Regions from separate parts of the Homo sapiens genome. Here region 2 is linked to region 1. The links come from fine-mapping of genetic effects on gene expression. A gene starts in region 1. The other region holds a variant in brackets. All regions are shown on one strand. Distances are from middle to middle.

Region 1 (2,903 bases):
GTCTATTAATAATAGTACTCCTGGTACCTAGCTCCTCCTTGCTTCACAGCAGACACTAAACAAATGCTTGCTGAGTGAGTAAATACTTACATTTAAAGAGAGGCAATTATACACATTGATCATTTGATCACCCTCTAGCACTGATAATTTTTAAGTGATTAGCTTTAAAAATCATTTTTCTTACATCAACCTGGGTCCTCACACTATTAAACAACAGGAGAGCTTTCAATATTAAATGAAGTGGGGCAGCTGGGCAACTGTAAATTTTGGATGATACTTCAGAGAAGAGTCTAGGTGTATCTGTTCTATCCCTTTTTCTGATGGGCATCTGCCATTTATTTTTCCATTCTTAAGCTCTCAGGAGGGATGTCTTATTAGTTTATCAGAATGCATAGGGAAAGCTCATCTTTCTTGGAGTAGGTCTTCCAATAAGTGTTCAAGCCCTGGGTCTTCCCTCACTACAATAATAAACATACCTGCTCTACCCTCCTCACAAAGCTGTTATCGTGAGCATGAAAAGACGAGTCGCTGTGGGGAAGAACTATTAACCCCTATACAGATACTGTTGTTGCTTTCCGTTCAAGGATCCACCATGAGACTGTGGGTAAGGCACTTTCTGGGCAGTGAAATCGGGCTTAAGAGAATCATTGTACTTTTATTTTGCTCCTGGGACCGGCAAGGGCAGTTAAGAGCCCTAGCCCTAAAACTGTCGTCTGTTACAGAGGCAGAGAAATCATTACTGGGGTTGGCAGCGTTGGGGGGAGGGGGGAAAACGTGTATGAAAACCTGGGCTCCCAGAGCAAACTTCGCCACGCGCCCTCCATCGCCCCTGTCTCCACACAAGTCCCGGCAGGGGCTTCTTGGGCGGAGGCCACGCCGACCAATAGGAACCCACTGTGTTCCTACAGGTTACGAAGCAGGTGGAGAAATTGAGCAGAAACAATTAGCGAAACCGGGCTCAGCCTTTACCGCGGTGCCAGGAGCTCCTAACAGGCCTGGAGGGGAATGTCGGGGCTCAATTTCCTAACGCTCCCCTCCCCATCCCCATGCCACCTCCACGAGCAGCGGCGTCCAGCCTCCTCCCGCCCGAACGTGCTCGAGGGGCGGGCAGTCGACCTTTATTGTCTGGGGAGCACCTGGCAGGTGGCGGGCCCGTGCCCTAACGTGTGCGTGGTGCCCAGCTTCACAAAGCGAGCGGGCAGCACCTCCTTGGTCCGGGAACGGCCTCAGCCTGGCCGTCCACATCCCAGGGGTGGAAAGGTGGAGAGAGAAAGGGGCTCCGGAGTCAAGAGCGGGGAGAGAGGGCGCGCGCGCCCTCCTCCTCCCGGCGGGCACGGCCCCCCGGCATTAACACGTCGAAAGAGCAGGGGCCAGACGCCGCCGGGAAGAAGCGAGACCCGGGCGGGCGCGAGGGAGGGGAGGCGAGGAGGGGCGTGGCCGGCGCGCAGAGGGAGGGCGCTGGGAGGAGGGGCTGCTGCTCGCCGCTCGCGGCTCTGGGGGCTCGGCTTTGCCGCGCTCGCTGCACTTGGGCGAGAGCTGGAACGTGGACCAGAGCTCGGATCCCATCGCAGCTACCGCGATGAGAGGCGCTCGCGGCGCCTGGGATTTTCTCTGCGTTCTGCTCCTACTGCTTCGCGTCCAGACAGGTGGGACACCGCGGCTGGCACCCCGACCGTGCGACTACTCGGCGAAGCCTGTGCCTGGGAGGGTGGTACCCGCCAGGGTGCATCCGGAGAGAGGACTGCGGGCCCTCAGTGCCCGTGCGTTCCAGCCTCCGGGGAGACTCCAGGTGGCCCTCGGACTCTCCGGCGCCCTGCCTCGCTCACCTGCGCGAGGAGACCCCAGCTGCTGGTGGTGGGGGACGCGAATCCGGGGTTCTTCGGGAATGGGGACAGCAAGAGGGGGTTAGGCGTGAGCGAGGCTGCAGGCTCCGTGCGAGTTTGGGGTGGCTTTTGTGCCGACGTTGCGCGGGGGGCGGAGGCGGGGGGCTCAGGGGTTTGCACCGAGCGCCTTCTCTTGCCGTGCGAGGCGCGGCCGCAGCTTCCTTTTGTTAAAAGTTGCGTGTGTGTGACCGGCGCCCGGGAGGACCTGCCTGCAGGTTCTCCGCCGCGCTGAGGGCAAAGTTAGAGAGCCCTTTCTCTGCTCTGCGGCTACTGCCTTCCAACCGCAGGCGCTCTTTGTGCCCAGAGCTGGGGACCGACCCGCTGCCGCCTCTGCTCGCGGCGCCACCCGTGGAGACCAATCGAAGGCTGCGGCGTTTCCCCGCCTCCGGGTTAGGCTTTTGCGCTGGGAGTGCGCGGCGTGGGGCTGTTGTGGGGCCGGACTCCCGCGAGCCTGGAGGTGGTGGCGACAGGGACAACTTGGGCAGGGCGTGTGGAAAGCAGCCGCTAGGTTGCAGACTTTTTGCTTTCGTACATCCCGTGCTCGCCCCTTTCTGCCGCGGCGCCGTTTCATTCCTGCCGCGCGCCCCGGGGCGGCTGGAGGCTGTGTTTGCCGCCTGCTCCGGGAAGGCAAGGGACAGCGTGCTGGGACTCTGCGTTCCCTGACTCCAACCGCCTAGCACGCCGGCCAGAGTGCCCGGCCTGCCTGGCGGGTTCTGAAAGCCCCTAGTTCCCGGTGTCTGCGACCTGTATTCGCAGGTCCTGTTTTCTTCGGAAATTTTTGAGATTCGTGACCGCCCGCCTCCCCGCCCCCGGGACTTCTATACTTCAGGGCTGCCTGGGGGTGGGGTGGGAGATGGCGTGGAACTTTCTGCAAATCCTACTCAGTTCTTAAAGCTATAACAGAAATCCAGGTATATCCGCGCGGGAACTGGGTCTTAGGTGAAGGATTTGCAGGTTGCTGGAGCCCCTTGGTCAGATTCCTGCCTCCCGTTCCCTTTTTTCCAGGTGTCGCTGGTGCGG
Region 2 (2,903 bases), 160 kb before region 1:
GCCTCCCAAAGTGCTAGGATTATAGGCATGAGACACTGTGCCCGTCCTGTCATGAACCTTTCATGCACTAACTTTCAGGGTGGTGGGGAGTATAAGCTGGTACACACTTCTAGGCCCAGCATTGGAAGGGGCCTGAAACAAATGTCAATCCTTCGTAAAGATTTTTAGCTAAGCATCTACTTTTGCTTAGGGACCCCCAACTCCAGTTTTTCCCTCTCATGGATTCTCAGTGGCCCGATCAATTTGTCACAACACTGTCCAACATGGTAACTATTTTAATCAGGGAGAAATGACAGAAGAAAAAGGAGACTCATGTTTTGTGTTGCTCCTTCTACATGTGACACTGTGAGAACAGGGCCCCTATTCCCATTTGATGGATGCTGAAACTGAAGCTTGGGGTGATGTGACTTGCCCAAGGCCACAGCTGGTGTGCTGCAGAGATAGGGTCAAAGCTGGCTCCATTGTCTCCAAAGCCTGACAGCTTCCCCTGAGCTGTGTCATCTTTTCATGAAAAAAGAGGAAAATTTGTTTGCACCTTCCCAGTCAAAAGGTTAAAGGAAGGCAAGAGGTTGGTGGACTGTCCCGGGCTTGCCTTGACATGGTTGTGCAGGGTTTCCTTGGGAGAGGGTATGCAGTACTGAGGAAGAGAGAAAGACACAGAAACCAGCTCCTGTTTTATAACTTCACCTAGCACCTGTATTTGTCAAGAAATCTTTCCAGCTGCAAATACTAGAAACCCAACTCAAACTGGTCGCATAGGAAATGGGGTCTATTGGTTTGTGGGCCTGAAAAGCATGCCAGGAGTTCTCCCCATCTCTCTCTTTCTCTATCTCTCAGCTCGGCTTTCCTCTATGTCTGCTTCATTCTCAGGCAGCCTCTCCCCACGTGGTGACACAAGTGACCAGCAACAGTCTAGACTTAATGTCTCACCAGCCTAGGACCCCCTCCCCCAGCTGACACAGTGGAACTTTTCCCCAACAGTTGTAGCAATTAACCAATCTTGTGAGCAAGGGGTTGCAGCACCTTGATTGTACAGGCCTTGAGTTCATCCCTGCCCCCACCACCAAGAATTCCATCAGCCTCCCTTGCATCACAGGGTTTGAGCATGGCTCCCCCAAAAAACAGTGAAGTGCTGGCACCATAGGAAGGGATGCTGGAGGGGCAAAAGCCACAGATATCCACTGGAATGTACGCCACAAAGACAGGTAAGGTTTTTGTTTGTTTGTTTCGTTTTAAAAAAAAATTTGTTTTAAATTTATTTACCACTGTGTCCCTAGGGCTCAGAACAGGGCTGAACACCTGACAGGCACATTCAAGAAACATTTCTTGAATGAATGATGGATGGACTGCAAAAAAAAAAATGTCCCTCCAGAATATGATGTCCAGGATAGCACGAATGGGAGATTGGGTACACTGCAGGTACAGACTAGAGTAGGGAGCAGAAGCTCTGGTCCTGTAGATGAGTTGTGTGTCATTGAATGAATGACACATGACTTCTAAAATGTTGGCATTCACCACATGTCA[A/G]TCACAGCATGAAACAGAGCTCTGGAATGCCAGTCTCCAGCAAGGGCAGGGCTTTTACAGTGCAGTTGCATACAAGTCCCCTGGGAATAAAGGGTGATGGGTCACTTTTTTCTTACAGGCTTGTGTCTACAAGATAGATATGCTTCATGTGCTGCTGCTTTTCCTCCCCAGATTCCCACTGTGAAATGGAAAGCCAGCATGGTGGCACCCATTCACTTGGAATGAATGTAGGGTCCTGGTCTGACAGGAGCCTGAGTGGTAGCATTCCAGAATGTCTACTCAATTGCTGTTAATCGGGTCTCATGTTATCTCTCATCAGCATGCTAACCCAGTGCCCCAGAGTGTATTCTGGGGAGAACATGTACTTCAACCCCCTGCCCAAATTACCTCCTACTCTCATTACCACCCTTTGGCTTTTCCGTGGCACATAGGAATAGCTGGCCTTTCTGAATTAGTAAGTAGAATATGCCCAGTCAATGTGTCTCAGCCAAACGTGGATTTCTTGACAAAAGACTGCGAGGATGTTAGATCTGGAAATACTTTTACAGACAAAAACAAAAACAACCCCTGAAAAGTCACTGCAATAAACTGCCTGGTTAGTATGCGCCCAGTGTATTTTGCCATTGTGGAAACTGAACTTAATTTGTTTTAACATGATGCAGCTATTTAGCATTTCCTCCCCCTCCTCCTCCTTCTAGTTAATTCTGAGTGGAGATAAATCTTGAAAACAGACTTGGAGGGCACAGCAGGAGGCCCTGCAAAGTCATTTGGGTTGTGGCTTTCACGGTGCCTCTTTGCTATTTTCTGAGCAATTAAAACTTAAGCAGGAAAATAAAGTGTTATTAAAGTGACTCATGAACATTATAGAGGCTGGGTGCATGGAATACTTAGCTTCTGACAAAGGGTTCCTTAGGCACCAATGGGTGTTCAAAAAAATTCCTATCGCCCCAGTAACTTCTCTGAACACTAGAAACGTAGGTAGAGAGGACTACACCCAGTGGGTTGTCAGCCCTTTAACTCTAACATCATTCCAGAGAGGTAGGCAAGCTACTGAACTGTCAGTTCTTAAAGTAGGGAACAAAGGCTCCAGGAGTTGAACAATTTTCCCCAGGCAATTTGTCTGAGCCAGTGACAGAAGCTCAGGTTCTCTGTCTGCAGAAACAAAGTGACAGGGCTGCACCGCATTAACCTCTAGGTCCCTCCCTTAGTATTGAGGTTTTGATCCTTGGTATTTTCTTCCTTGATCCAGGCAGCCATAACTACTGTTCGTTTTGGTCTGCTATGATTATTTGACTCTCCTTTTCACCTCCACATGCCTTCAGACACGCCATATTTCATTGAATCTAAGATAACATAGATAAGACGATGAACCACTATCT

Direction of the effects. Alleles are on the strand shown, and positions count from the first base shown. SD is a standard deviation of normalised expression in the study named.
With allele A in place of G in region 2, the expression in fibroblasts of the gene that starts at base 1,522 in region 1 is lower (moderate effect, 0.50 SD a copy in GTEx).

Evidence for each region.
Region 2: its variant is fine-mapped to the expression of KIT in fibroblasts (GTEx, PIP above 0.99).

What each region holds. Positions count from the first base shown.
Region 1 is chr4:54,656,436-54,659,338 of GRCh38, forward strand. It overlaps KIT (KIT proto-oncogene, receptor tyrosine kinase), which reads left to right and starts at 1,522. Exons shown (of 21, transcript NM_000222.3): 1 at 1,522-1,646. The coding sequence starts at 1,580. RefSeq lists a silencer at 807-1,101.
Region 2 is chr4:54,497,218-54,500,120 of GRCh38, forward strand. No RefSeq gene overlaps it. Among named protein-coding and RNA genes, the nearest start is that of LINC02260, 110 kb to the right of the region's middle. The variant A/G (reference allele first, on the strand shown) is at 1,525.